Linked DNA regions of Homo sapiens: all the other regions are linked to region 3. Evidence: fine-mapped expression QTL. A gene starts in region 3. Each other region holds a variant in brackets. All regions are shown on one strand. Distances are from middle to middle. Region 1 overlaps PLEKHH2 (pleckstrin homology, MyTH4 and FERM domain containing H2). Region 2 overlaps PLEKHH2 (pleckstrin homology, MyTH4 and FERM domain containing H2). Region 3 holds the start of PLEKHH2 (pleckstrin homology, MyTH4 and FERM domain containing H2).

Region 1 (10,363 bases), 73 kb after region 3:
CAGGTGTGAGCCACTACACTTAGCTAGGAAATTACATTCCAATATTTCAACATCAGATTTACCTGATAAAGGCTTAAGAACAGTGGTTTTGGTTTTGGTTTTTGTTTGAGAACAAGTCTTGCTCTGTCGCCCAGGCTGTAGTGCAGTGGCATGATCTCGGCTCACTGCAACCTCCCCTTCCCAGGTTCAAGCAATTCTTGTGCCTCAGCCTCCCAAGTAACTGAGATTACAGGTGTATGCCACCATGTTTGGTTTTAGTAGAGAAAGGGTTTTGCCATGTTGCCCAGGTTGGTCTCAAACTCCTGGGCTCAAGCGATCCACTGCCTCAGCCTCCCAAAGTCCTGGGATTACAGATGGGAACCACCATGCCCCACCAGAACAGTGGTTTTGATACCATGCTGGTAATAGGGTTATGAATAGTCAGAGAATATCTTCCTATGTACTGCTTACTGAATTGGTTGGTAAGCAGTTGCCTGTACTTAGTTCTGCCCAGCCTGAGCAAAGCATGCATGGAGATTTCAAGGAAATAAAAGCTATGGTTCTTGCTCTCAAAGAGCTTGCAGTCTAGTTGGGGAACTAGCACACATGAGGAAATAATGAACCATGTAAAAAAGTGTATAAATAAACCTGTAAATGCCATAATCTGTAAAGTAGACTATACAGTTAGTAATCATGTATTAATCGAATTGCTTTTTAAATGGAGATTATGCTCATTTGTATTCATAAGAAAAAGACCAATGTGCTAATTAGAAGTTTTTTAAAATGTTGTTTCCTGTTTTTCTGTTTCAGATTCTGCTGCAACCCTTTCCTATACTACATCAGGACTTTATACATCTCTGATATACAAGAACATGACCACCCCAGTGTATACAACTTTGAAGGGGGTAACTCATTATTGTTATTGTTAAAACATGTGCTTCTCTTCATGATGGATCAAGGAAATTGTTAATTCAAGCTCCAGATTCCATTCTTAACATTTTACACAGGCTCTCCCTTTATAGAAAGTTTTACAAGTTCACGTTAACATATCATAAAAAAGAAGGAATGGAAAGGTCTGCAGAAGACACTTATCAGAATGTTAGAGGTCTGAGTCAGTTTTTACTGTGTCCCATGTGATTCCCCCACCTCCCCATGGCCATGAATTGTTTAAAGGAGACATATTATTAATAATGTAATGAAAACTCCTAATTTAGGCAGATCTTTGTATCAGTGCCAGGGTACCCCTTCCTTGCTTGAAGTATTAATTAAAAGAAGGATTGCAGGTATTGACAACCTTATATTTTCAGGCATCTTTTATAATTGCTTATTAGAATTCAGGGTTTAACAACATGATTTTGATAACAGCAAAATACATTCCCAAATTCCTTTTAAAAATCATATGCTGGCTGGGCACGGTGGCTCACGCCTGTAATCCCAGCACTTTGGGAGGCCGAGGCGGGCGGATCACGAGGTCAGGAGTTCGAGACCAGCCTGGCCAACATGGCGAAACCCTGTCTCTACTAAAAATATAAAAATTAGCCGGGCGTGGTGGCAGGTGCCTGTAATCCCAGCTACTCAGGAGGCTGAGTCAGGAGAATCGCTTGAACCTGGGAGGCGGAGGTTGCAGTGAACCGAGATCATGTCATTGCACTCCAGCCTGGGTGACAAGAGCAAGACTCCACCTCAAAAAAAAAAAAAAAAAAAATTCTATGCTATGACTTCTTCCTGTAAAACTTTCTGTTATCTAAAAAGAGTGATAACCTTAGGGATGGATACAGGGAGGTTGCTCTGCTTTTCTTTAGGAGGCGACCCTAATAACTAGCAGCCTTTTCTTGGATGAGTGGTAACATTAGGGATGGATACAGGGAGGTTGTTCCACTTTTCTTTAGAAGGCGACCCAAATAAGTAGCAGCCCTTTCCTGGATGACTCATCTGGGTCAGAGGAAGAAGACAGCTCCAGATCCAGCTCCCGGACGTCAGAGTCAGACTCACGCAGTAGGAGTGGGCCAGGCAGCCCCAGAGCCATGAAACGAGGTGAGGGAAAATCGCAGGCATATGAGGCAACTCCAGATCATTCTGAATATTAATTGGGAATTTTATCTCCATTACAGGATTATTTTTTAAATCCAAGAACTTGCTTCAGACCCTAGTGAAAAGAACTTTAGCCTATGACTGATATGTTTATATTCCTAATTCTCTTCTTAATTCTCTGTGATTTCAGACAAATTATATAGTTTTTTTTTTTCAGCTTTTTATTGTCTGTGAGAGGGAGATCACTTTATTGTTGGAATGAAGTGAGATAATTGGCCAAAATGAGGTTTCTTTCTTGGCATTTGTGAAATAGACTTATTTCAGCTAAAGTTGTTACACTGCTAACTGGCAGAAAATATACCTTAAAATTTGTCAATTAATCTGATGTTAAAGTGGAGAACAACATTTACTTGGAATATGTCTATGATTTTTAGTGGATTTTGAAGACATTCTGTGTGTAGGTAGTGGTTACAGAGAGATCTAATTCCACCAAATGACATCTGTATGTTATAAAAAGCCCTTAATGCAGCATGGTGTGTCTGTTGGCTTTCAAACTGTGTTCCATGGAACCTCTGGATACTTCCAATCCCCTCGGCTTCAACTGGAGCTGCTCAGCCTTCCTTGGTTTCATATTTTGAGCTTCCACTGGTCTTCTTGCTCTCAACTTGCCCCGCTACAGCCAGAATCAGGTTATGACACACTTTTGCTGGAAACACTGCAGTGGCTCCTCACAACGGCTATAAGGTGTTCCAGGATTCGGTCACGTACTTGACCTCATCTCCTTTCTTCTCTGTACTCAGCTCCAGTCTCACTGGCCCTCTTGCTGTTCTGAGACATGCCAGGCATGCTTGCATTTCAGGACCTTGGCACTGCTGTTTCCTCCAGCTGGTATTCTTCCCCTAGATGTCCGTATAGCTGACTCCCTCACCTCCATCAGCAAACGCTGCTTTCTCAATGAGGTCCACCCTGACCACACCACTCAAATTGCAGCCCTTTGTCTTTCTTCTGTTGCCAGCTCTTTTTATTCCCTTTAGTCTGCTCTATGTTTTATTGTTCCATACCACCTACTGCCTGTTTGTCAGTGGTCTCCTTCCGCTAGAATTTGTTCCACGAGAGCCAATATTTTTGTTGTTTGCTCTATCCCTAGCATCTAGGACAGTGCCTGGCACACTGGCCCTGGTCCTGGGAGCCTGAGACTTGTGTTCCAACATTGCCCCTGCCTAACTCTTTGACTTTGGACAAATCCTTTAATCTCTGGGCCTTAGTCTCCTTGGGCCTTAGCCATGACAATCACTGAGGTCCCTATAGGTCTACATTTTTGTTTATTCTATGAAAAATGAAGATATTATAGCAACTGTTACTTGTCTGAGTCAAATAAAAAGCAGTGTCACAAGAGTGGCATTGTTCTAATATGTCCCTTAAATGTTAATACATATTTTTAAAAATTGCTGGATACTTTTATAAATAATTACCTAAGTCCTTGATTTTATTTAATATATTCTAAATCTCCAATTGTAGTGACTCATGAAATGTGGCTTGCAACTCCCAGGTAGTTTTCTGTAAAGGCAAATGAATCATTGTATAAATGTTCCATTGAATTTTATGTTATAGCTGCTGGCAAGTGAAAGAAATAGTTTGTTTATATCTTTCAATCTTATTGTTTCTCTTTTATGAAATATTTTTAAAATCTGTAAACTGCTTAGTAGCTTATGGAACTTGAATGAAAAAATACTACTGAATTGTGTTTTTTTAAAATGTGAGGTTACTTTAAAAGTGATTACAGAAGTTAAGAAATTTAAAATGTGATTGTGAAAATCTTGATAAATTAAGGTTCAACATTTGTTTGCCTATATGTCAATGTGTAAATACACATATTTTTAATTCTTAATAAAATATACATGAGTAGACTCTTGCATATATTTTATATATGTAAAATAGCTGTGTGATTGTAATCATACCAAAATATTATTCCTGTTCCTTTCACTTCCTTAGAGATTTACATGACAGTCCCTACCTCTTAGTTCTGTTTTCTGCTTTAAAAGTTCTTCATGTTGGGAGGCCAAGGCAGGCGGATCACGAGGTCAAGAGATCGAGACCATCCTGGCCAACATGATGAAACCCCATCTCTACTAAAGATACAAAAATTAGCTGGGCGTGGTGGCGCACACCTGTAGCCCCAGCTACTCGGGAGGCTGAGGCGGGAGAATCGCTTGAACCCAGGAGGCAGAGGTTGCAGTGAGCCGAGATTGTGCCAGTGCACTCCAGCCTGGTGACAGAGCGAGACTCTGTCTCAAAAAAAGTTATTTATGGCCAAAGGAATGAGAATAAATCTAGTCTAGGGAGGCTTATGATTTAGGAATAATTGCATTCTGTAGGAGCACTCAGAGCTGGTGTTTGGCCCTCCCCAGTATTAAATACTGACTTGATTTCTTTCTTTGTTCTCTTAGGTGTGTCTCTCTCCTCTGTGGCTTCTGAAAGTGATTATGCTATTCCTCCTGATGCTTACTCCACAGACACGGAGTACTCACAGCCAGAGCAGAAGCTCCCAAAAACTTGCTCATCTTCCAGTGATAATGGGAAAAATGTAAATATTGAATATGATTTTTAAAAAGCAGTCAGTCAGATTGAGCCTCCAAAAGGAAACTGAAAATGCTTTTGTCTATCTTTTAAAAATTAGGAACCACTGGAAAAATCTGGTTATTTATTAAAAATGAGTGGTAAAGTCAAGTCTTGGAAGCGGCGGTGGTTTGTTCTTAAAGGTGGTGAATTACTTTACTACAAATCTCCGGTGAGTGGAAAGTGTTTTCTGTTTAGAACGTAATTCCTCAAACTATAAATCAGACGCCTGATTGATTTCCTTCCCATAATGCAAGTAATGATACAAAGCATTCCTTATTATTACTGTTAAAGTTAATCACTTTCCATTTGTTTTTCTGTTTCATACAGAGTGATGTAATTAGAAAACCCCAGGGCCATATTGAACTTAGTGCATCCTGTAGTATTTTAAGAGGAGATAACAAACAAACAGTTCAGGTACTTAACTTTTTTTTTTTTTTTTTTTTTTTTGTATCATGCCAGACTCAATTCTCAATTATCCAACCTAATGGAAAGGAGATAGGATAATTCAGTGTTTCTTTATTCACTTTGGGGGGTTAGTTTGATGCCTTGGAAGTATGTGAAACTCCACGAATTTTTGGTTAAAACTATAATGTAAGTTAGGTGTGTGTTGAGTAACTCCCACCACACTTTACCTTTCTTCCTTTATACTCTTCTTTCCTCATATTTAATCTCCTAGGTATTTTCAGCTGTCCAACTGTGAAGCTATTTTAAGGAAGGGTTATCTGGTAAATGAATTCTCAATAAGATGTTAGTTATATAATGTACTGTGAAATTCAGGAATGTTTGTATTTTAATATAGAATCTGAAAATGACAGTTCTTATATGAACTTCAGATGCCATAACACCAAAGTGGGAAATATATTGGTGAGCAGAGGGAGTGTGCTGCCAAGCAAGTCACACTGTAGGGGCAGCTGCTGCCCATTTTACTCACACATAAGGCCAGTCTTGCCAGAAATCTGTTAAATTTAAAACACAGGCTGTTGAGATATTCTAGTATATGTAATTTAAAGTCAGACACTTTATTTCTGAAATGTCTTCAATAACCATTATTTTCTTATATTGCTCCTTTGGAGGGTGGAGGACAACTTTGCCAGAAAGGTACATTATCAATGTTTCCAGTGATTTGTACCTGAAAACCTCTCAAAAATTTAGAAAGGAGAATCAAGGAAAGCTTTGTCTTTGGGCATGGCAGTTAAGAATCATTTGTAAGTTTCTGAAATTTGGAAAATTTGCAGTGTGGCTAATTTGAGACTGGAACATTCTGAGTTCATAATATCTAATCACATGTTCGTTCCAATAATTTATCTTCTTATATGCAAGATCTTCTTATTTTATTTATAGTTGATTTTGTCATTTGTATTAAGAAACCTCTTCTTTAGTTGCTAAAACTATGCTATTTTATTATAGTCTTTAATCATTCTGCTCCTCATTTCAATAAGTAGGAACCTGGCCGGGCGCGGTGGCTCACGCCTGTAATCTCAGCACTTCAGGAGGCTGAGGCAGGCGGATCATGAGGTCAGGAGATCGAGACCATCCTGGCTAACACGGTGAAACCCCGTCTCTACTAAAAATTCAAAAAAAATTATC[C/T]GGGCATGGTGGCAGGTGCCTGTAAGTCCCAGCTGCTCGGGAGGCCGAGGCAGGAGAATGGTGTGAACCCAGGAGGCGGAGCTTGCAGTGAGCCAAGATGGCGCCACTGCACTCCAGCCTGGGCGACAGAAAGAGACTCTGTCTCAAAAAAAAAAAAAAAAGAAAAGTAGGAACCTGTAACACATTTAAGCAAGAAAGGGAAAATGTGACAAATAAACAAGATATAAAATCATAACCCCAAAATTAGGTAAACTGGAGTAACAAAGTTATTTCCACAAAAATTTAATTGCTGTAATTCTCACAAAGTGGTTAAAATATTCTAACTGATATGGAGTCATTTATTTAGAAACTGGGACTTGAGATTTAGCATGTTTGCTTCTGTGTTAAGTAATGACGTTTGAATAATGAACAAGGAAATGCTAACAATCCTAAATCTTCACAGTTTTCTTTCCTATACCTTTCTCGTTGCATTCTAGTTGACCACTGAAAAACACACATACTATCTGACTGCAGATTCTCCCAATATATTGGAAGAGTGGATTAAAGTGTTACAGAATGTTCTTCGAGTACAAGCTGCCAACCCACTTTCCCTGCAGCCTGAGGGCAAACCCACCATGAAGGGATTGCTCACTAAGGTAGGAACCTCCTGTGCATAGCAATGTCCCAGGCAGCTATGGGCATGAGCCCATGATCGCTGAAAATGGGATGTCAGAGCATATACATATATTGAATATTGATATGATCTTGGGGATAGGAAAGGGTGTTTTTAAGTATGATGCCCAAGGCAAAAACTATAAAGATGAAAAGAAGACAAATTTGACTATAATATGTAAAAATGTAAAGGCTCTATTAAAAATTCTACGAGCAGAATTTTTAAAAGAAGGATTGAAAAACTTTGAAGAGGTATTTGAAACATGTGAAAACTGGTTAATATCATTAATATTTAACACGTTTTTTTCTAATCAGTAAGCAAACAATGAACACCAATTGGGGGAAAAGGAACAAAAGACTCAATGGGCAGGAAAGAGAGATCATCGAGGTTAGAAGGAATACAAATGATCAATAAGCATATGGAAAAACATTTTACTGTCACTCAATTTTTTTAAAAGCACAGATTGAAATAAGAGGTGGCACTTTTTAAAATCTGGTGAAAAGTAAGACGTTTTTACAAATTTTGAAACCTAGTATTGACACAGATTAAAAAATCTGCTAGTTTCTGCAATTACATAGGCAGTAGAAAAAAAAAGAAATCTGCTAGTGAGAGCATTACTCTAAAAGGCAGTTTGGCAATATCTTGGCTGAAGTGTTAACTTAGCCAATAATTTTGAGTGAACAAATCAATATCAAATCAACACACACACACACACACGCATATATATCTCCTTTGATCCAGCAATCTCAGTTTTAAAAATTTATCCTTAGGAAGTGGTCTTAATTTGCAAAAGATTTAATTATGAGATGTTCCTCACAGCATGTTTTTTTTCCTATTTTAAAAAATGAGGTATGATTAATATATCTGAAATGCACAGATCTTAAGTGTAGAGTTTGACTAGTTTTGAAAGCTATTTACTTTTGACTCTATCAAGATGCAGAACATTTCCATTACCCCAGAAAGATTCCTTGCACAGCATGGTTCATAATAAAGAAAAATTGGGATCAAATTAGATGTAGGGTAAGGTATAGCTTTAAAAAATGTTTGTACAACCATATAATGCTTTACTATGCAGCCTTTTAAATGTTGTAAAAGAATATCTAATGCTATAGAAATATGATGTATTGTTAGGTAATAAGTAGAGTGCAGTATTACATTATTATACCTTATTTGTTGTAAGTATTTATAGAAAAATGTCTGGGAAATATACCAAAGTATATTGGTTATCTCTGTGATTTTATTTATTTTTGCTTAATTCTGTTTTTTTTTTTTTTACAATGAGTAAGTATTGACTTAATATTATTTTTAAGTTTTAAAAAGTCCTATTGGTCACTTTTTGAAAAATACAACAAAATATGTATACACACATAATCACTCCTCATTCATGTACTCTGATTATGTAAGAGGTGGAAAATTAGATGGAAAGTAACTATGCTACTGTGTAGTTTATACTTATTATTAATGTGGGAATGTAGGTGGGTGTTATTCCATAATATTTAAAAAGACTGACCAACTATAGCAAAGGTAAAACTTAATTCACTATTGCATTAAACAAAGAAATATACTATGTACTATGTTTTTTCTAAAATACGACTGTGAAAATGTTTTCTTAGTTACTGATGGGTTAGGGAACAAAATATTTGCACAATACTTTTCCAGTGAACACACTGCTACTTTAAATCACATTCTTACTATAATTCATAATAATGAGCTATGCTCTTGTTTCAAGGACCTCATATGCATATCAAACCCTGAGAGTTTAAGATGATCCCATGGCTAAGGGTTTATTACTTCCCCCACAATTAGGATTTTGTTTGCTTGCTTGTTTTTACTTTATCAGCAAGGCATGTCAGTTTCTGCTCCTATAACATTTCTGCGATTCTCCACTTCCCATTTCACAATTGCATTTTAAATGAGTATGAGTCGATGGGATTCTCAGATGACTAAATCATTAGGGTTTATAGCCAGGATGCTTATTAAGTTTCCTTCCTGCCATTTGTGCTTGTCCACCCCCATATTTTCACCCTTAGAACCTTATGAGAGAACAGCTTCCCTCAGTTATTCTGAGTGACTTGTTCTGAGCTCACATTCAGGCTGCAATATGAGATACTGTCAAATTGCATTTGAATACCTTGGAGGGGAGGAAGTTTTCTCAGGTTGTCACATTGTTTTTATTAAGTACAGAATAATATAGGTAGATGCTAAGAACTTGACTAATTTGATTCTAGACAGTCACTCTTGCAATTTTTATTTTAATGCTTAGGAAAAACATTTTCTATATAAAAATTCAGTTCTTTAAAAAACGAAAATGTATTACGCAGTTACCACATGCAGCACAATGTGCTGAAAGATACTAAGATGAATAGGCCACTGTCCCATTCCTCAGAGAGCCTCATAATCTATTAAAAAAGAGGGAGACAAAAGCTTATTTACAATGATATAAAGTACAATTATTGAGATGTGTCAGTAATGACTTCTGAGAGAAGATTTACCTGTGCCGAGTCTTCAAGGAGGAGTAGGAGTTAGTTATACCAAGTGGGAATGGGTGGAGGGGTGGTACTCTAGGCTAGGAGACAGCGCGAATGAAGGCTTAGAGTCTTGAAGCAGTGGCTTATGCCTGTAATCCCAGCACTTAGGGAGGCTGAGGCAGGCAGATCACCTGAGGTCAGAAGTTCGAGACCAGCCTGACCAACATGGTGAAAACCCGTCTACTAAAAATACAAAAATTAACCAGGCATGCTGGCGGGCACCTGTAATCCCAGCTACTCGGGAGGCTGAGGCAGGAGAATCGCCTGAACTTGAGAGATGGAGGTTGAAATCAGCTGTGATTGCAATGTTGCACTCCAGCCTGTGCGACAAATGAAACTCCGTCTAAAAAAAAAGAAAAAAAGAAAAAAAAAATCTCGAAGCAGTGCCAGCTGCACTAGGAACAAGTCCTTTGGAGAAAAAGCTAGAGGGGCCTATGGATGGTGGAAAGCTATTTTTGTCTTTTTAAGGACTTTGGTCTTTATCCTGAAGGATATTTGAAACCCTGCAGGGTTTGTAACAGGAGCATGGGCATATTCATGTTGCTAACAGATTACTCTGCTAAGAGGAAGATGAATCAGTGGGAGGCAAGGTGGAGGTTCTAAGAACAGTTAAGGGAGTGGTTCCTATGAAGAGGATGAAACTCTGAAGGGGTTACAGGAAAAGAGAGGAGAGGATGAATTTAAATAATGGTAAGAGGTAAAATCTTTAGTTTGATTGAATTTGGGGTTAGGAAGTAGAAGAGATAAAGATGCCTGGTAGAAAGATGATAGCAGATAAGAGAGAGCTCAGGAAAGAGGAGCAGTTTTAGGAAGATTAGGTGATTTTGGAAGACATCAGGAGCTGGTAGGATGTCTTAGTTAAAAAGTCCAGCAGGCAGCAGACCACCAGTCTACATCGGAGAAGAGTGCTGGAGGGCTGGATTGGAGAGAAGGATTCGAGGAATCATCAGCATACATGTGGCAATTA
Region 2 (10,363 bases), 86 kb after region 3:
GCATCAAATGTTTTTGAATGAATGAATCTTTTACATTTGGGAAATTACTAGAATTCTTCAGGTTTTCATCTTCTCACTTCTTTTTTGTTTTTGAGACGGAGCCTGCTCTGTCGCCCAGGCTGGAGTACAGTGGTGTGATCTCTGCTCACTGCAAACTCCGTGTCCCGGTTTCAAGCAATTCTCCTGTCTCAGCCTCCTGAGTAGCTGGAACTACAGATGTCCACCACCACGCCTGGCTAATTTTTGTATTTTTAGTAGAGACAAGGTTTCCCCATATTGGTCAGGCTGGTCTTGAACTCCTGACCTCAGGTGATCCACCGCCTCGGCCTCCAAAGTCCTGGGATTACAGGCGTGAGCCACCGCGCACAGCCTTCATCTTCTCACTTCTAATGTTAGAGTGTTAACCTAGAGAGCCACAGGGCTATTGGAAATCTGTGAAATGTGGAAACTATGAAATATACTGGTGAAATTGTACTTTCTCTTTTTTTATGTTAATGCATTCATGGGGTACAAGTGCAATTCTGTTACATGCATTGACATTAGAGTGTTAACCTAGAGAGCCACATGGCTATTGGAAATCTGTGAAATGTGGAAACTATGAAATATACTTACTGGTGAAACTGCACTTTCTCTTCTTTATGTTAATGCATTCATGGGGTACAAGTGGAATTCTATTACATGCATTGATTGCATAGTGATTCTGTCAGAGCTTTTAGGATACCCATCACTCGTAATAACATACATTGTACCCCATTACATAATTTCCCATAATCCACCCCTCCACTCCCTTCTTTATCCATCTGTGAAACCTCAGTCCTAGGCATAGTGTTTGATGCATAGTAAACATTCGTTGTATGTTGAATGGTGAGCACCAAAGCAAAACTTGCCATTCTACTACTGTTAACAGGTAAATCTTTTTTTTTTTTTTTACAACTTTTATTTTAGATATAGGGGGTGCACGTGCAGGTTTGTTACATGTGAATATTGCATGATGCTGAGGTTTGGAGTACAGATCCCATCACCCAGGTAGTGAGCATAGTACCCGATAGGTAGCTTTTTAACCCAGCCACCCCGGTGCCCTCTACCCTGCTAGTCCACAGTGTCTATTGTTTCCCTATTTATGTCCATGTGTGCTCAATGTGTGACAGGTACATCTTAAACAGCACTGGACAATCTATTTGGAATATCACTTATATCTGGGCAAACTGGATGCCTATAGAAACTCAAATAGGGTGTATAAGCTATAATTTAAGGTGTCAGAGTTCTGGGCTAAACTTGTAATTCATTGAAATATGGTTTCAGGTAAAACATGGATATTCCAAGAGAGTCTGGTGTACACTAATAGGAAAGACATTATATTATTTTCGGAGTCAAGAAGATAAGGTATGTATGTATTTTTAATATGCCAATTGAAGTAACTTTTTGTGTGTTAGGGCTTAAACTTTTCCTTTTCTCTCTTCTCTTACTTTGTAAAACTTCAGAATCTTTATGAGGTTGAAATTTGGTATAATTTGGTGCAACTGAGAAAATCACACAAAGGTCTATCACCTACACCTACAAGGGTCTTGATTCTTAATTACAAGCCTTAGCAACTTTTAATTAATGCATCTTCTAAGACCTAGAACAGTCTTCTTCTATTCCCTCCCCACAACCATCAGTTTCTTATATTTTCCCAGGTTCTTACAGACCAGATAAGGTTGATAGAAGGAAGCAGCAAGTTAGGAAAGAAAACCTAAAAAGGAAAAGGAATCTATTTCTGTCCCAAGCCCTCAAATTCCCGAATACCGCTTATCTACCCATCCATCTGCCTGTTTATATTCTGTTTATTAATGTTTAAACTAATCCCCTCCCCAAAAGAATCTGAATTATTTTAAATTTCAGAATAAAAAGATGGGGTGTCTGCCCAAAGGTAAAACGCATGCCCAGTCATCATTATGGGTATTCTGTGTCACCTTTGGATAACTGAAGCTATAAAAATTGAACCAACATGGGCCACGAGTACTTGTATAACATAATGATGACTGCTCCTCTGAAGAGCAGCCTGTGACTGTTACTGTGTTAATGAGACTAAACTTCTTGGTCTAGTGACCACATGGGACAGTTAGTATTTCTCCTTCCCTTTTGATAGCCTACACTCTCAGGTCTGACCAGCTGTATTTAAAATACATGCCGTTATACTCAGTGTTGCTAATGGGGTAGAGATTAACGCAGTACAGCCATTAAAAACAATACTGAGGCCAGGCATGATGGCTCATGCCTATAATCCCAGCACTTTGGGAGGCCAAGAGGTGGGAGGATCGTTTGAGCCCAGGAGTTTGAGACCAGCCTGGACAACATAGTGGGAACCTGTCTCTACAAAAAATTTAAAAATTAGCTGAGTGTGGTAGTGTGTGCCTGTAGTCCCAACTACTAGGGAGATCAAGGTTGGAGGCTCACTTGAGCCCAGAAGGTGGAGGTTACAGTGAGCTGTGATTCGCACCATTGCATTCCAGGCTGGGTGACAGGATGAGACCCTGTCTCAAAATAAACAAACAAACAAACAATCTCTGAAGTAGTGTGGGAAAATGCCGACATACAAATGCTACCCGAATATGTACAATACAAAATTGTGCTGTCAATGTAATCCTAACTCATCAGTCAGGAAAACAGAAGCCACTGTACGTGTTACAGGTGTAAAAGATCTAATGCCACCCTAGGCAACATAGCAAAACCTAGTCTCTACTAAAAAAAAAAAAAAAAATTAGCCAGGCATGGTGATGCATGCTTGTAGTCCTGGCTACTTGGGAGGCTAAGGCAGGAGGATTGCTTGAGCCCAGGAGATTGAGGCTGCAGTGAGCTGTGATCATACCACTGCATTCCAGCCTGGGCGACAGAGTGAGACCCTATCTCAAAAAAAAAAAAAAAAATGTTAATATAGAATTGTGGACATACGTAAATATTAGAGAAGTTTTATAACTTACATAACTTTTAGAAAAGTTGTATGGGAGTGGTAAAAGTTAGGGAAACTGCCAATGAAGGTCAGAGAAGACAACACTGAAGATTTCTGGCCAAAGGACTGAAGGCAGCTGGTCCTCGAGGCTTCACTGGGAAGCTTCAGTGAATCTTACATGAGCCCCAACATCAGCCACCGTAGTCCCAGGAGAATAACAACTCTTCTACCCTCTCCTTCTAAACTTCAAGTAGATTCTCTCACAGGAAACTCTAACTGGGAACCATAACAGGGAAGGAGGTTCTGGCAAATACAGTTCCCAATTTCTCTGTAATTATGAGATCTTAGAGGATGGTGATTGGAAGGCCAAGTTTATAAATCTCAGTCTGACACATCTAAATAAAATAATTATCTGTGATCACAGTAATATGGATGGTTTCTTTCTTTTTAAAATCCTTTCCATACTTACCAAGTTTCTGTAATAAGCATGTGTTTTTATAAATAGAAAAATAATTTAATAAAAATGGATAGCATTGATCACAGAAGAAACAAGTCAGAAGAATGGATACATAAACAGAAATCCATTATAACAACTGGAAAAGTATTGAGAATATATGTGAATCATTATAGGCCTACTTCATTTTTTGCTATAAATATTTCCAAAAGAATTTGCTTTTAATCTGTATCAATGTCTTTTTTTATTAAATCAAAATATTTGAAACCACTAGGTCTGTTTGCTGCTTATCAAGGCATGGTGCATCCTTTGGTAAAATGAATAACCATCTTTAAATATTAGGGTGGATGAAACCTAGATTTTCATATCATTGTGCCTAAAGTACACAATTAGGTTAGTATTGTTATGTATTATCATAGTATTAATAGAATTTGTTTTCTTCATCCTATTATTAAAAGCTTGCTTTTTAGGAGAGGCGAAATTTTACCTCTACTTTCTTAGGGTTTTTGGCAGGCCTGAGAATTAAATTCACATTAAGACAGATTACAGGAGAAACATATACATTTATTTAAGTTTTACATCACAGAGGAGCCTTCCTAAGGCAATGAAGACTCCAAGACATAAAGGTGAACACTTATACACCAAACTGGACAAAGTGTAGTAAATTGTGAAAATGTGACAAGGCAAAGAGACTTGGGCTGGGGTAGTTACTTGGGTGGAGAAGTGAGGAGGAAGATAAGATTAAGTTTAACAAGGGTTGTTTGTATAACTTTCCCCAGGCTTCGGCTTCCCATCTTGACAAGAATCTTACTTTCCTTCTGGTAAAGGGAGGATATCTTTCATATAGGCGTTATGAAAGGCAGGTTCCCTCCTGCCTTTGGGAAGAAAACGCAGAGGGTCAGAACACCCTTCTTGCACCTGCTGCTTTTAAAAATGCCTTTAGTTCAAAATAACCCTTATGCCAAAGTGATATCTGTTGGGGTGGCAGATTCTGCCACCCTTCAGCTTTTGCTCTGAGTGAGATGACAAACAACTGGAGGGCTTTGAGCGGAACAGGGACATGATCTTGCCTGTGTCTAACAGGCACACGCCGACTGCTGATTAAGAATAGACCGGAGGGAATAAGGAGGAGATGGGTTAGGAGCCATTGCAGTAATCCAGGTGAGAGGGGATTGTGGTTTAGTGGTGCTGTGGACATGTGAGAGATGAACAGATTCTAGATAGATTCTGAAAGTCTTGTTGACAGGATTTATTGACTGAAAAGTCAGTATGAGAGACTGCAATGATGCCAAGGTTTTGGGTGTTAATAGCTATTAATAGAAAAGTAACATTGCCAACAACTTGAGATGGGGAAGACTGGGCAGAGCAGGTTGTCAAGGAGGACTTACCAAGGTAAGTCTGAAATGCTGTTAAGTTTGAAATGCTATCCAACATCTAAGTAGAGTTAGTGAGTCTGGAGTTATAAATTTGGGAGTAGCTAACATGCTGGTATTAAAGCCATGAGCTTAGATGAGGTCACCCAGAGAGTGAGCATAGATGGAAGAAGGGCTCCAGCACTGAGCCCTGAAACTTAGCATGTAAACGTGTGAGGTAAATATCCTTGTAGTTAGAATGAACTTTTTCAAAACTCCAATTGCAAACTTGGCCAAATATTTTAGAAGTTATAAATCTGATGCAGACCGTGTATTTTCCTGGAATAAAGGTACTAAATTAGAGCAAAAGTTTTACAACAGATAGGCCAAATATTCAACACACCAGATATAGTTGGTTTTGTCAATAAAAGCTTAGATAAAATTTAATATAAATTGGCTTTAGGAAGTTTTTCTTACCCTTAAGATGGAGAAATTCATGGTATTGTTTTGTGATATATAACAAAGAGCCTTGGAATGCTCCTCCTTTACTGGCATTTGGGATGATAGTTCGTTTTGCACTACCTATCTAATCTTGTTATTTTTTCTAGGAACAATATTTTTCTTTTCAATAAGCAGTTTTGAGACTATGTATACACTTGTCCTTTTGATCCAATAACTTAATCAAATTGCTGATCAATTCTGTGGGATAAAAAAGTCAAATGACTGTTTTGGTGAATTATGACTAGTTGCTTAACTAAATAATGGGTCATTTTGAAGCAGCCTCATTGTCTGGGGTAAATACCAAAGTTCTTGTTCTCAAGGACAAGGAGATCTGGGTCATGGACACACACAGACAGAGTGAGTTTAGAGCAGGAGTTTAGTAGATAGTGCAAAAGGAAAGAACACCTCTCCATCACAGAGAAGGGTCCCGAGTGGGTTGCCAATTTGTAGTAAAGATGTCAGGGTTTTTATAAATGGGCTAGCGAGGAGGGAGCTTGTAAGGAGGGGATATCTTATCCTCCTGATGGTTTAGTTGGAACCAGGTGTGCTATCTGTACAGAGCAGAGTTTTTTTTATCAGCTCTGTCTCATTCCGTAACCACATAGGCTGACTGTTAGTCTGTGTTTCTTTGTCCTGCTTATCTGGGAGGGAGAGTTTGTGTTTGTTGCCATCTTCTTGCAGCTGTAGGCACCCCCTCTAGTCTGCTTTTAGCTTCTCTATCTTAGTGTGTCCAAAGGGAAAAGAATGTGCTTATTAAGGCCCACTGTTTTATTGGGGGGCCCATTGTACAAGTGTGGAGTTTGGTAATTACCCAGGAGACCTTCCCCCCTCCTTCTGTGCCGAAGCTGTCTTATCTGTGTTTCACTGTCTGCTCTTTCAGGCTGCTTGTTGTTAGAAGAGAAGTGATTTCCTTGAACTGCCTGGGGTTAGAAAAGGAGCTATCTTTGAGCTGC[G/T]TTTTTAAAAAGGAAAGTTTTCTGCTGGGGACTTGCTTTACCCTAACTGTCTATCTAAATAATTTCTTTCTGCCTCCTATAAGAATTTTAGTACAGCTGAATCATCTGAACTACTGCATAAAAGTAGCATCTTGTTTTTTCCTCAGAAGTTAAATCTCTAATATGTATATGGTTCTTTCATATTACTTTTAGGCTCTTTGGTTGTTGCCACTACTTTTGTTACACTGTGGATAATCAAATTGCCTCTAGGCATCATTTTTAAAAAGGTATGTTATACTGATGCGGTGGCTCACGCTTGTGATCCCAGCACTTTGGGAGGCTGAGGCAGGAGGATTCTTTCAGCCCAGGAGTCTGAGACTGGCCTGGGCAATGTAGCAAGACCCTATCTCCAAAAAAAAATCATTTTTTTTTAATTAGCTGGGCATGGTGGCATGTGCCTGTAGTGCTAGCTATTTGGGAGGCTGAGATGGAAGGATCCCTGAAGCCCAGGAGTTCAAGGTTACAGTGAGGTTACTGATTGCGCCACTGCACTCCAGCCTGGGAGACAGAGGGAGACCCAACCCTGTCTCAAAAAAAAAAAAAAAAGGAAAATAAAAAATAAAGTAAAATTTTTAAAGGTATGCTTTATAAATTTAAAAATGAAAAGGACTATGAAATGTTTTAGTAGGAAAAGATTTAGAAAATGCCTTCCTCACAATTACTAATATTTACTTTAGTTTCCTTTAGGTCAGATCAAACTCTGGGAGGCTAAAGTGGAAGAGGTTGACAGATCTTGTGATTCAGATGAAGATTATGAAGCCAGTGGACGAAGTCTGTTATCCACACATTATACTATCGTTATCCATCCCAAAGACCAAGGTCCAACTTACCTCCTAATTGGATCCAAGCATGAAAAGGTATTCAAAGACTTATTGGTTGATTTAGAATGATGTAGACTAATATTATTCAGATATTGGTAATAATTATCAAATCAATTTAATGGAAATAAGGAAGAAAATTTTGCTATAGACTTTCACCTCTGTTTTCAGAGATTCTTTACCTCCCTGGAAATGAGCCTCGTTCAAATATGTCATTTTCTAATCCTGTTGGTAAGAGTGGTATCAAGGCTGAAATTAGTGCGTGGAAGTGGAGGGCTAAAGGAACTTATGTTAAAAATGTGGATCTCTCAGATTGAACATTTTTTGGTAAATCTAAGGACTCTGTTTTATATTTTTGACTAATTTTTAATAAAATTTGGCCTTAGATACAGTAGAAAATTAATTATTTTATGTATTATATGTACATGTAGTCATTTATGATAAAGGAGGTATCACAAATTAATGGGGAAGTAATATATCATTCAATACATATGATTATGTATTTCTTATATATTGAGGAAATTGGCTACTTAGGAAACATTAGTTTTTCATCTCATACAGATAGCAAAATAATTTCCAGATTATTATTTTCATCTCATACAGATAGCAAAATAATTTCCAGAATTTAAAGAGTTAAAAGAATTCAATGAAATTATTTTTTAAAAAGGCCTTTATCTGAGTTCTGAATCAGAAGTACTTTCTAAGAAAACAAAAGGGCGGGCTGGGTGCGGTGACTCACGTCTGTAATCCCAGCACTTCGGGAGGCCGAGGCGGGTGGATCACAAGGTCAGGAAGATCGAGACCATCTTGGCCAACATGGTGAAACTCTGTCTCTACTAAAATACAAAAATTAGCCAGGCGAGGTGGCGTGTGCCTGTAATCCCAGCTACTTGGGAGGCTGAGGCAGGGGAATCGCTTGAACCCAGGAGGTAGAGGTTGCAGTGAGCTGAGATCGCACCACTGCACTCCAGCCTGGCGACAGAGCGAGACTCCGTCTCAAAAAAAAAAAGAACAAAAACAAAAAGGCAGTGTAAGAAATCAGAGTGCAAATGGTTGATAGATTTGACTATACAAAATTGAAATAATTATTTATGTCAAATATTATCATAAATATGACTAAAAAGATAATACAGAAAACAAAATATTTCATGGATGGCTACTGTATCCTTAACATATAAACAACTCTTTATAGATTATTATTGTTACTATTGATCATTGTTTTTGAGCACATGTATCAGGCCAAGTGCTAAGTATATCTCTTCTTCATCCTTCCAATTACCCTCTGTGGGAGGTGACCTTATTCCCATTTATAGATGGAAAGACTGAAGCACTTTCCTGTGGTCACACATCTGGCAAGAGGCAGAGTTGATATTAGACCCCTATCTCTAACCACAGAGCCTGTGTTCCTGAACACTTGCCTCTGCTACCTCTCATATGATTTGAAAAGGACTATGTTTCTAGTAGAAAAATGGAAAGAGGGCCTGATGAACAACTTACTGAGGAATTTAATGGCTAATGAATGCTTACGCTCATCTGTAATCAAAGATGCGCACATTTAAAAATGATAAAGCTTTTATTGTCTCTGAGATTATCAAAGATTTAAAAAATTATGCTAGTGAAGCTATGAGGAGGGAAGCACTCCTATATACCACTGGTGAGAATAGAAATTAGTGTAAATGCTTTGGAAAGTACTTTGAAAATATGTTTCAAGAGTTCCTAAAAGTTTTCTCGCCCTAGTAATGACTCATAATTCTATTTCAAAAAATATATACTAAGAAAATGTTGGCCAGGCACTGTGTCTCACGCCTGTAATCCCAGCACTTTGGGAGGCCGAGGCAGGTGGATCACCTGAGGTCAGGAGTTCGAGACCAGCCTGGCCAATGTGGTGAAACTCCATCTCTACTAAAAATACAAAAAGTAGCTGGACGTGGTGACAGGTTCCTGTAATCCCAGCTACTTGGGAGGCTGAGGCAGGAGAATCACTTGAACCTGGAGGCAGAGGTTGCAGTGAATCGAGATCGCGCCATTGCACTCCAGCCTGGGTGACAGAGCAAGACTCTGTCTCAAAAAAAAAAAAAAAAAAGAAAGAAAAAGAAAATGTTAGTAAATGTAGCCAAAAATTTATGTATAGTTTGTTCAACACAATACTCTTTTTTTTTTTTTTTTTAAAACAGAGTTTCACTCTGTTGCCCAGGCTGGAGTGCAGTGGCGTGATCTCGGCTCACTGCAACCTCCGCCTCCTGGGTTCAAGAGATTCTTCTGCCTCAGCCTCCCGAACAGCTGGGACTACAGGCATGCACCACCATGCCCAGCTAATTTTTGTATTTTTAGTAGAGACGGCGTTTCACCATGTTGGCCAGGCTGGTCTCAAACCCCTGACCTCAGATGATCCACCCGGCTTGGCCTCTCAAAGTGCTGGGATTACAGGCATGAGCCACCGTGCCCGGCCTACAATACTCTTTTTAAAATAATTTTATTTTTGAAGTATTTTAAAGATGGAAAATATAACATTTCCTTTTCAGTTAACAGATGATAGCTGTCACAGTATTTTTTATCAGTGAGAAGTTAGTAACCATCATAATGTTCAGCAATAAGAAATTGATTAAATAAATATGGTGTGTCCATATGTGTAGTAGAATATCCTGCAGCCATTAAAACTTGTTTATAAAGAATTTCTAGCAACAAGGGAGTGCTTGTACTATATTACTAAAATTCAGAAATTATCCTCTACTTTCAGAATAATTCAACTATGTAAAAATTTAATCTACATATATATTATCATAGAGAAAAAAAGACCAGGAATCTTTGGTGAATGGGATAAGACGGGTATTATGTTTTCTTTAAATTTTCTGGATTTCCAAAATATTCTGTATGTATCACTCTGGGAGCCAGATTTTTAATTTAATAGAATTTATTTATTTTGTAAAAGAATATCAGCTGGTTGTATTTAGTCTCTTAACATGTGTTACTCGTCTTAATTTTGTCATGCTTTTCTAAAATGCATCTGAATAAGAAAAGTGTAAATAATGGGAAAAGGTAATATAAACACAGTTCAAGTGAGCATGCCTCAGAATTGTTTGAATAAATGGCTTTTCATTATTATTTAAAAATTAAAGCAAGTGGTTCATTTCCATCTCAAAGTTTTCTACTGTTTATGCAAGTTGTTTTTTTTTCTTTAATCAAAACTGTGTCTTAACATTTAATTAATATGTTCTGGTTTTAAGGACACTTGGCTTTATCATCTGACTGTTGCAGCTGGAAGCAACAATGTAAACGTTGGATCTGAATTTGAACAACTGGTTTGCAAATTGCTAAAT
Region 3 (10,363 bases):
CCTGCCCAGCTTTCCTGTGTGATTTTAATGTCCAGTGTCTTTTTTTCTTTTTTTTAACTTCATGGGTCCTGAACAAACTATTACTGGCTCTCCCTCAGTCTGGTTCAACAATTCTTTTCCTCTTTTCAGTTGCCTTAAAATAAGTGGTGCTCAAAGTACCCACCTCTGTGCTTTTGTTATGCTTCTGTACACACTTGTTTTCTTTTCATGACCTTAGCAATGCCCATTAGTCTCTCACCTTCACCAGTTCTGGCACCACCTATGCTACCCCCAACCAATCTGTGATAGTGGGGGCCCAGCTCACCTGGGGAGGTGAGATTGAAGCAAATCCTGCCTTCGTTGCAGACCCAAAGGACTGAGCAAGCCAGTATGCTCTGGACACTGGGGACACATCAAAGAAACTGTTTTCCTGGTCCACCCCCACTGGGAGGGCCAGGATGCTTGTCTGTCTCCTTGTTTGTAGGGCCTCCTTCATGCCAAGGCTTTTCTGGTCTCCTAGGTTGCAGGTAAACAGCCTGGAGTGCCCAGACCTGTACCCTCCTCAGCTAGAGAGAGCTGTTCCTGCTAGCTCTATTCATTTTTCCAAATCTTCCCCTTGTCTTTGATATCTTTTCCCAGGTGCTGGGGTTTATACTTTCTCCGTGCCAGAAGCCACAAGCTTATTCTAGTGGAGATAGTGTCTCCGCCCTCCTTCTTTCTTTTTGGATTTTATGTGTGGTGGATTAAAGGATCAGATACTTATTCCCTGATATTTACCCAGCTCCGTACCTCTTTTCCCTTCAACCCCTCTGTCCTTGCTCCCAATGTGCCAAATGGCCACATGGCCAGCAATCATTCTACAATTTACAGTAATCTCCCCCTATGCAGAAGTATACGTTGAAATGTACACCCAAATTCAAACCTTCTCCCCAGCTCAGCCTGACTGATTTTCTCTTGGCTCTCTCCTGGATATTTCACTCGCACCTCAAGTTGTGCTCAGTACCTCCAAGCCAGATCTCATTCTTCTTGTTCCCTCTCCTTGCTTCCTTACTTTTGTAAATGGCACCATCATTTCCTGATAATGCAGACACAAAGCCTCCCTTCTAATCCGCCTTCTAATCAGCTGTTAGACCTTGTAGGTTCAATTTCTTGAAAGAAGTTGAGATGTATAAACAGTTCCTGATTTACGGTGGTTTGACTTATGATTTTTGCTAGATACTGGATATACATTAAAGAGCAAAAACAGTTGTTCTACTTTTCTGGCACTTACAGTCTTGTGGGGGGGAAAACAGACAAAATAATCACAAATAAACATAATATCACAATTTAGATTAATGCTTATAAAACAAAGGTGCCTATTGCTACTAACATTTTCTATCCCTGCTACCTAACGTAAAAACACAAAATTCAACATGTTTTTCTTTTTTAAAACATCTTTATTGAGATATAATTCAATAACATCCAGTTTATCCATTTAAATTGCGTATGTCCATGGCTTTTTGTATGTTCAAAGTTGTGTAATCATCACCATAAATGTTTTTATTATCGCAAAAATAAACCTCACTTGTCTTAGCCATCACCCCGATCCTTCCCAGCCCTAAGCAACCACCAATCCACTTATGTCTCTATGGATTTGCCTGTTCTGAACATTTCATGTAAATGGGATCCTACAGTATGTGCCTTTTAAATGACTGGCTTCTTTCATTAAGTATAATGTTTTCAAGGTTTATCAATGTTGTAGCATGTATCAGTACTTTATTTCTTTTTACCACTGAATAATATTCCATTGTACCATGTGTTTTTCTCAGCATAGACAAAGATAGGATGCTGTTCCGCTGTATTCTCCATACCCAGACAAATTCAGTTTGTCATGTTTCTAGAAAAAGGTGACAGTAAGTAAATATTGGCTAAGCCTTACAAGGGTGGCAGCCGTGTTTACAAAGCGGCTTTTCATGAGTGACTTTATTCACTCAGTTCTTTTAGTCTAATTAGTATTTCTGACTCACAAACGGAAGTGATTCTATTTTGGCATTCTTTCTCTCTTTCTCCTGCTTGGTCTCTACTGACTTGCTGTGTTAAATTATGCAAGTTACTGAAACTCTGTTTGTTTAACTCCTGCGTGCTCTATAAAATAAGCCCAGTCCAGTCTGCTTGTTTGCCAAAGCTGTTTGAAGACAATTTTTCATATGATATGCATCATCAGCTCCCACAGAAGGCAAAAGGAATTTGATGTGTGGGGGTAGTCTGGGATCCTGTTCAAAATTAATGCTCATCTGGAAGAAATATGAAAGCCTGATACTTGCTTACTGGACTTTTAGTTGTATTCACTTATTGCTTTTCCTCTGAGAAACTTTGAAAATCTTTATCTCTTTTGTGGTTTTTTCTTTCCTTTTTTTTGAGACAGAGTCTTGCTCTGTCACCCAATCTGGAGTGCAGTGGTGCGATCTCAGCTCACTGCAACTGCTGCCTTCCTGGCTCAAGCGATTCTCCTGTCTCAGCCTCCTGAATAGCTGGGATTACAGGCGTATGCCACCATGTTCAGCTAATTTTTGTATTTTTAGTAGAGATGGGGTTTCGATATGTTGGCCAGGATGGTCTCAAACTCCTGACCTCAAGTCATCTGCCCGCCTTGGTCTCCCAAAATGCTGGGATTACAGGCATGAGCCACTGTGCCCATCCTCTGTGTGTGTGTGTGTGTGTGTGTGTGTGTGTGTGTGTGTGTGTGTGTGTTTTATATAAGATGAGATAAAGTTAAAAAAAAAAAGATTGTAGTAGAAAAAGTTTTTCTGATACTCTCTATTGGCCAACTGTGAACCAAAGAGAATAATCTGTCTGACCTAGCTTTGTGACCTGGGGAACGATTATCCATAACATTCAGAATTCTCTTTATTTTACCCTGAGATTGACCTCTCCAGACCCTAAGTTGGGATGTAAAATTCACCTGGATTTAAATTATCACTAATTTACTTATGCAATATGCTCTGTGCTGAGGAGAATGCAAAAAAAAAAAAAAAACCACAAATCCTTGTTTTCAAAGTGCTCACAGTCTAAAAGAGATGTGAGGAGCTGTGCATAAGGCAGAGGGAGCTAAGCCCCAAGAGAGGCAAAAATCTAGATGTTCAGGGAGCAGAAACCAGAGAAGACCTTTTTTTTTTTTTTTGTCTCAGATGGAGTCTTGCTCTGTAGGCAGGCTAGAGTGCAGTGGTGCTATCTTGGCTCACTGCAACCTCCGCTTCCCAGGTTCAAGCGATTCTCCTGCCTCAGCCTCCCGAGTAGCTGGGACTACAGTCGTGCACCACCACGCCCAGCTAATTTTTGTATTTTTAGTACAGACCAGGTTTCACCATGTTGGCCAGGATGGTCTCGATCTCTTGACCTCGTGATCTGCCCTCCTCGGCCTCCCAAAGTGCTGGAATTACAGGCATGAGCCACTGCGCCCGGCCCAGAGACGACATTTCTGCCAGGTGGAGCGACAGACATAGTTACATGGAGAAGATGATGATGATGATGATGATGATAATGATGATGATTTGAGACAGGATCTCGCCCAGTCGCCCAGGATCCAGTGCAGTGGCATGATCGCGGCTCACTGCAGCCTCCATCTCCTGTGTTTAAGCAATCCTCCAGCCTTAGCCTCCTGAGTAGCTGGGACTACAAGTGAGCGCCACCAAGCCCAGCTAATTTTTTTTTTTTGTGTGTATATATATATATATATATATATATTTTTTTTTTTTTTTTGGTAGAGACAGGGTTTCACCATGTTGCCCAGGCTCGTCTCGAACTCCTGGCCTCAAGTGATCCACCTGCCTCGGTCCCCCAAAGTACTGGGATTACAGGCGTGAGCCACTGCGCCCGGTGAGAAGATTATTCTGAGCTTTTTGAAGTGGAGACAGGAAATAGCATGTAAACGCTCCTAGTGCCACTTCCTTCGGGTGGCGAGGTGCACAGCAGTAGTCTCAGGTGTGTGAAGGGCAGCTGTGAGAAATAAACCTGAAAAGACGGGATGGAGACCTTGAACACTAGACTAGGGAATCTGTTCTTGATAATTTAAGCAAACGGAAGCCAATGAAAGTCTTTGGCACACTGTTCATCAAAACTGCTCTTAAGGAAATTAACCTGGCAGGAAGATGAAGGGTGGATTGGCAAGAGGAGAGACTTCAGACTGGGAGACCAAGGGAGGGTGCTGCAACAGTCCAGGCAGACGGAGTGGAATGAAGGTGACCGGCCGCTGCAGCAAGCTCTGGAGTCTCGCAGTTGGGACGTTAGGGGTACCACTCCAGGACAGAGCTCCCTCCTGGGGCAGGGACTGGGAGGAGCCAAAGTTATAGCCACACCCCCGGTGACGCCCGGTGGTCGGCTGTGGTCTCCCATTGGCTACACCGGCTGCCAGTCCCTGGAGGAGGCGGTGCCCTTCCCCGCCCTCTCCGAGCTCGGCTTGAGGCGGGCGCGGGCTGAGAGTCCGGGGATCCCGGGGGCCAGTCGCGGCCGGGACATCGGGCGCTGCGGCCGGGGACCCGCTGCTGAGATAGACAGGTGAGAAAGCCCGGGGACGAGGGGCCACTCCAGAGTTCCTGCCACCCTGGGATCCCCGCCCCCTTGAGGGCGCCCCGTCCAGGGGGGCTCGCGGGGCCGAGGTTTGGGGCGCCGGGAGGAGCGGGAAGGCGGGGACGAGAGGGACGGAGCGGGCTGACTCGGGATCCGCCGCTGCACCTCCCGCCACAGCCCAGAGTCGGCCCCCAAGTCTGGATGTCGCCGGGAGAGGTGGGCAGGGGGCGGTGGCCGGCGGTCCCTCGCGCCCGTGGGCTCCCGTGACGTTCTGTTTGGAAACACTGGGCCCGGGCTTCTGGCGCGGCGCGAGCGGTCCCGGGGGCGCAGCGGGGCAGCCCAGGGTCCCCGAGCCGAGGGACCCGCGCGGTCAGGGATGCCGCGCTCGCCTTAGGCTTCGGGAGATCCACCAGGATCTCCGGGGCGAAACTTTAAACTCAAAACTTTAAAGAAGCATTTTGTACACCTCGAGTTGCTGGCACGTCAAAGCACCCTAAGGTGACCTACCCGGAAACCACTGTCCCCGAAGTTAGTGGGGCACTTTTTAAAGGACAACACTTTTTACCCGTCGATATTGTTGTGCGTAACGCTGTGGAAATAGAAGTCGAACCACTTACATTGGAAAAGCTCTGGTGGTGGGCTACCTGAGGGTCACTGCTTTCTTTGTGAAAATGCCAGTCTTGGAAGCCTGGCCCGCACAGCGGTGTGTCCCAGAGGAGTATGTAGTGAGGAGCTCGGCTGTTCTGGGCAGGGTCACCGAAGGGCAGGCGTTGCCCAAGTGGGGCTAGGTGGCTAGGTGGTGGTCAGAAGGTTCCTTAAACAAGGCATGCCTCAGTCTCGTCGAGAAAGATCTTTTAACACACACACACACACACACACACACACACACACACACACTCACACACACGATTACCCAGCCCAGTTAAGCTGTCCCTTAAGAGGCAAAAACTAAAGAATATCATAGAGACTAACGCTGCGCTTCATCAGGGTAAGCCTAAGTAGAATAATTCTTTCATTTCTTTTTCTTTCCTTTTTGGGATTTGGAAGAGAAACAGGAAGTCAGAGATTCAGAGAAAAGAGCATTCACTCCACAATTGTAAACAGTTTATCTTATGTCAGTAAATACTTCCAAAAATCACTGGGGGTATTTGGAACTCCAAGACTTTTTCCTGTCCCCTGAAGTGAAGATAGATTATTTTCAAATGCAGAATCTAGACATGATAGATTCCTTTCAAATTCAGAATCTATATGTGGTATTTTCTTTATTTAGCAGTCGGCTATGTTATATAGTTATATATATATTCCCAATGTTATATAGTTCTATAACATTAGTGGTAATGAAAAGGATGGCGGATATTGTTTAAAATTAGAATTTTTAACTACCCAAGATGGTGCACTAATACAACAGTTGCTTTGTACTTGTTAACTAACTGAAATTACAGAATGAAATGAGGGAATCAGGTGTCTGGATCTCAGTGCAGACCATTATCCAACCAATTTGCAGTTCTGATTTATTATGACCCATTAATAGGGAATGTAGATGTTAAATGCCAATTTAATAATATTCTTAAGGCTTTGCTACTTCACTATAAAATATATAATTAGCATAACTAAAGAAATAGGTATGTTTGACTTTGAATTAATTTATTATGTCATCATAGCAAAGTGCGCTAGGTAAGATATATGTATGATACTTTTCATATTTGGGGTTAACAGTTACCTCTCAATTTTTTGAGCTAATTGTGAAATTCTTGGCAGGGATAACCACAAATAATGGTTGATTAAATTTGTAAATGCAGTCCTAGTATACATCCATTTAAACTGCGACTTTTTCTTTAGTCATTTGTAAATATGTGATCTTTTTTATTGAGATCTTAATATAAGTCACAAACTATAAGATTTTTCCTTTTAAAGTATACAGTTCACTGGGTTTTGGTATATTCACAAGGTTGTATAGCCATCACCAATATCTAATTCTAGAATATTTTCATCACCCCAAAAAGAAACCCCCTATCCATTGTAGTCAGTATCTGCTACCTTCTCCTCACAGCCCTTGGCAACCACTAACCTACTTTCTGTCCTTTGGATTTGCCTCTTATGGACATTTCATGTAAATGGACTCATACAATATGTGGCCTTTTGTGTCTGGCATCTTTCACTTAGCATAATGTTTTCAAGGCTCTTCCATGACTATAGCGTGTATTAGTACTGTATTCCTTTTTTATGGCCGAATAATATTCCATTGTATGGATGTACCACTTTTTTTTTTTTTTTTTTTTTTTTGAGACAGAGTCTCACTCTGTCACCCAGGCTGGAGTGCAATGGCAGGATCTCAGCTCACTGCAACTTCTGCCTCCTGGGTTAAAGCAATTCTCCTGTCTCAGCCTCCCTAGTAGCTGGAATTATAGGCCTGCACCACCATGCCTGGCTAATTTTTGTATTTTTAGTAGAGACGGGGTTTTGCCATGTTGGCCAGGCTTGTCTTGAACTCCTGACCTCAGATGATCCACCTGCTTTTGCCCTACAAAGTGCTGGGATTACAGGAGTGAGCCACTGCACCCAGCCAGATCTACTACATTTTATTCATTCATCTGATGGTGGACACAGGCTGTTTCTACTCTTTGGCTATCATGAATAATGTTGCTCTGAACATTTATTTACAAGTTTTGGTGTGGATGTGTATTTCATCCCTTGGCATATGACCCCATCCCTTGGCATATGACCCAGCAACTCCAATGCCAAGTATAAAGTTACCAATACTTTATATTGATATACCAAATATAAAGTTACTCCAATAACTTGGTAACTTTATATTTAAACTTTTTTTTTTTTTTGAGACGGTGTCTCACTCTTGTCACCCAGGCTGGAGTGCAGTGTATGATCATAGCTCACTGCTCAAGTGATCCTCCCACACAGGGCTCCCGAGTAGCTGGGACCACAGGTAAGCTCCCCGACGCTTAGCTGATTTTTAAATTTTTTGATAGAGATGAGGTCTTGCTATGTTGCACAGTCTGGTCTTGAACTCCTGACCTCAGAGATGAATTCTCCAACCTCAGCCTCTCAAACTGTTGGGATTACAGGCGTGAGCCACCATGCTGGCCTGTTTAAACTTTTCAGGAACTGTAAAACTGTTTACAAAGCAGCTGTACCATTTTTACATTCCCACCAACAATGTATGAGGGTTCCCATTTCTCTACATCCTCACCAACACTTGTTGTTAGATGTCTTTTTCATTAGAACATCCTATTTGATGTGAAGTGGAATGTTGTTGTGACTTTGATTTGCATTTTCTCTCATAGCAAATAATGTGCTTATTGGCCATTTGTATATCTTCTTTGGATAAATCTCTATTCAGATACTTTGCCCATTTTTATTTATTTATTTTTAATTTATTATTATTATTGTTTTTAAAGATCGGGGTCTCCCTCTGTCGCCCAGGCTGGAGTGCAGTGGTGTGAACATGGTTCACTGCAGCTTCGACCTCCTGGGCTCAAGTGATCTTCCTGCCTCAACCCCCAAGTAGCTGGGACTACAGGCCTGCACCACCATGCCTGGCTAATTTTTTTTTTTTTTTTTTTTTTAATAAAGACAGGGTTTTGCCACCTTGCCCAGGCTGGTCTCAAACTCATGAGCTCAGGCAGTCTAACCGCCTCGGCCTCCCAGAGTGCTGGGATTATAAGCATGAGCCACCACGTCCAGGCCTTTGCCCATTGTTTAATTGGGTTATCTTTTTTTATCGTTGAGTCCTAAGAGTCCTTTATATATTCTAGACACAAATCCCTGAGATACATGATTTGCAACTATTTTTCCCATTCTGTGGGTTATCTTTGCACTTTCTTGATAGTGTCCTTTGAAGGACAAAAATTTAAAAATTTTTATGAAGTCCAATTTATCTATTTTTTCTTCGATTCCTTGTGCTTTAGGTGTCATATCTAAGAATCTGTTGCCTAATCCAAGGTCATGAAGATTTATACCTCTTTTCTTCTAAGAGTTTAGAGCAAGCGTGTCCAACCTGTGGCCTGCAGGCCACAGGCAGCCCAGGATGGCTTTGAATGTGGCCCAAAACAAATTTGTAAACTTTCTTAAAGCATTATGAGATTTGTTTTGCAATTTTTTTTTTTAGCTCATCAGCTACCTTTAGTGTTAGTGTATTTTATGTGTGGCTCAAGACAATTCTTCTTCTAACGTGGCCCAAGGAAGTCAAAAGATTGGACACCCCTGGTTTAGAGCTTTGGCTGGTACCTGTAAGTTTGTGATCCATTTTGTGTTACTGTGTATATATGGTATGAGGTATGGGTCCACATTCATTCTTTTACATATGGATATCCAGTTGTCCCAGCATCATCTGTTGAAAAGACTATTCTTTCCCCCATTGGATGATCTTATCACTCTTGCCAAAAATCAATGTGAGGCTTTAATTCTGGACTTAACTTTATTCTGTTTATCTATATATCTATCTTTATGCAAGTACCACACTGTGTAATCAAGCTACTGTATAGCTTTGTAGTAAGTTTAGAAATAGTAACATGTGAGTCCTCCAACTTTTCAATTTTATTTTGTCTATTCTTCAGCCCTTGAATTTCCAGGCAAAGTTTGATCAGCTTGTCAATTTCTGCAAAAAATGCAGTTGCAACTTTGATAGAGATTGCATTGTGTGTATATAGCCATTTGCAAGTATTGCCATCTTCACAATATTAAGTCTTCTAATCCATGAATATACAATTTCTTCCATTTATTTAGGTATTTTTAAATTTCTTTCAGTGATGTTTTGTAGTTTTCAGTGCACACATTTTGCACTTCTTTTGTTAAATTCATTCCTAAATATTTTATTAGTTTTGATGCTATTGTAAATGGAATATTTTCTTATTTTCATTTTTGGATTTTTCCTTGCTAGTGTATAGAAAAACAACTGACTTTTGTATGTTGATCTGATTTCCTGAAACCTTGCTAAACTCTATAGTTTAGTATTTTTTTGTGGATTCCTTAGAATTTTCTATGCACATGATCATGTCATCTGTAAGTAGAGATAGTTTTATTTCTTCCTGTCCAATCTAGATGGTTTTTTATTTTATTGTCTTGCCCTGGCTATTATCTCTATTACAGTGTTGAATAGAAGTGGTGAGAAAAGACATCTTTGTCTTGTTCCTGATTTCAGGGAGAAAACTGTCAGTCATTTATCAGTAAGTATGATGTTAGCTGTGGGCTTTAGTAAACGTCCTCTATCAGGATGAGGAAGTTCCTGTCTATTTGTAGTTTCTTGAATATTTTTATCATGAAGGGGTGTTGGATTTTGTTGAATGATTTTTCTGTGTCTATTGAAATGATCATACGGTTTTTGTTCTTTATTCTTTTCACATGGTGCATTACATTGATTGATTTCAATTTGTTGAAAAATATCCACTCTTCATGTTATTTTTAAAACTGTGGACATTTTACTGTAGGACATAGGCAAGTTATTTTACATGTAGAGCAAAAATTAACCAGTATTAACCTATTAACAAATAGGTAAATAGACTCCTCTTATTCCTTAAGCTAGAAGAGTATCCCTACATTTCTGCGGAATGATATGGTAGTTCAAGACGTAAAGATGCCCCTTTCAGGCCTACTTTTTATTTTCTAGTATTGCATCCATATTTTCTTTCCCTGTTCGCTCTAAAGCTAATAAGGAGAAAAATGAAGCAGCCCCAGAACTGTGAACGTGTTTGTGATCGACAAACTGCATTATCTACTCCTAAATCATTGCTAGTAAATGCCAATGTGAATCATTAATCATAAATGCTAATATGGGTAATGGAAAAGGTTATTAACAAGGTTAATCTCCTTAGGAAAAACCTCAGGA

What was found.
Region 1: its variant is fine-mapped to the expression of PLEKHH2 in tibial nerve (GTEx, PIP above 0.99). The same link has a PIP of 0.9 or more in aorta, cerebral cortex and sigmoid colon.
Region 2: its variant is fine-mapped to the expression of PLEKHH2 in atrial appendage (GTEx, PIP above 0.99).

Annotation. Positions count from the first base shown.
Region 1 is chr2:43,705,533-43,715,895 of GRCh38, forward strand. It overlaps PLEKHH2 (pleckstrin homology, MyTH4 and FERM domain containing H2), which reads left to right. Exons shown (of 30, transcript NM_172069.4): 10 at 790-884; 11 at 1,869-2,013; 12 at 4,458-4,594; 13 at 4,688-4,798; 14 at 4,957-5,043; 15 at 6,693-6,851. Among named protein-coding and RNA genes, the nearest start is that of C1GALT1C1L, 34 kb to the left of the region's middle. RefSeq lists a silencer at 9,493-9,692. The variant C/T (reference allele first, on the strand shown) is at 6,217.
Region 2 is chr2:43,719,367-43,729,729 of GRCh38, forward strand. PLEKHH2 (pleckstrin homology, MyTH4 and FERM domain containing H2) reads left to right here. Exons shown (of 30, transcript NM_172069.4): 16 at 1,303-1,383; 17 at 6,906-7,085; 18 at 10,271-10,363. Among named protein-coding and RNA genes, the nearest start is that of C1GALT1C1L, 48 kb to the left of the region's middle. The variant G/T (reference allele first, on the strand shown) is at 6,190.
Region 3 is chr2:43,632,868-43,643,230 of GRCh38, forward strand. It overlaps PLEKHH2 (pleckstrin homology, MyTH4 and FERM domain containing H2), which reads left to right and starts at 4,393. Exons shown (of 30, transcript NM_172069.4): 1 at 4,393-4,512. RefSeq lists a silencer at 4,297-4,626.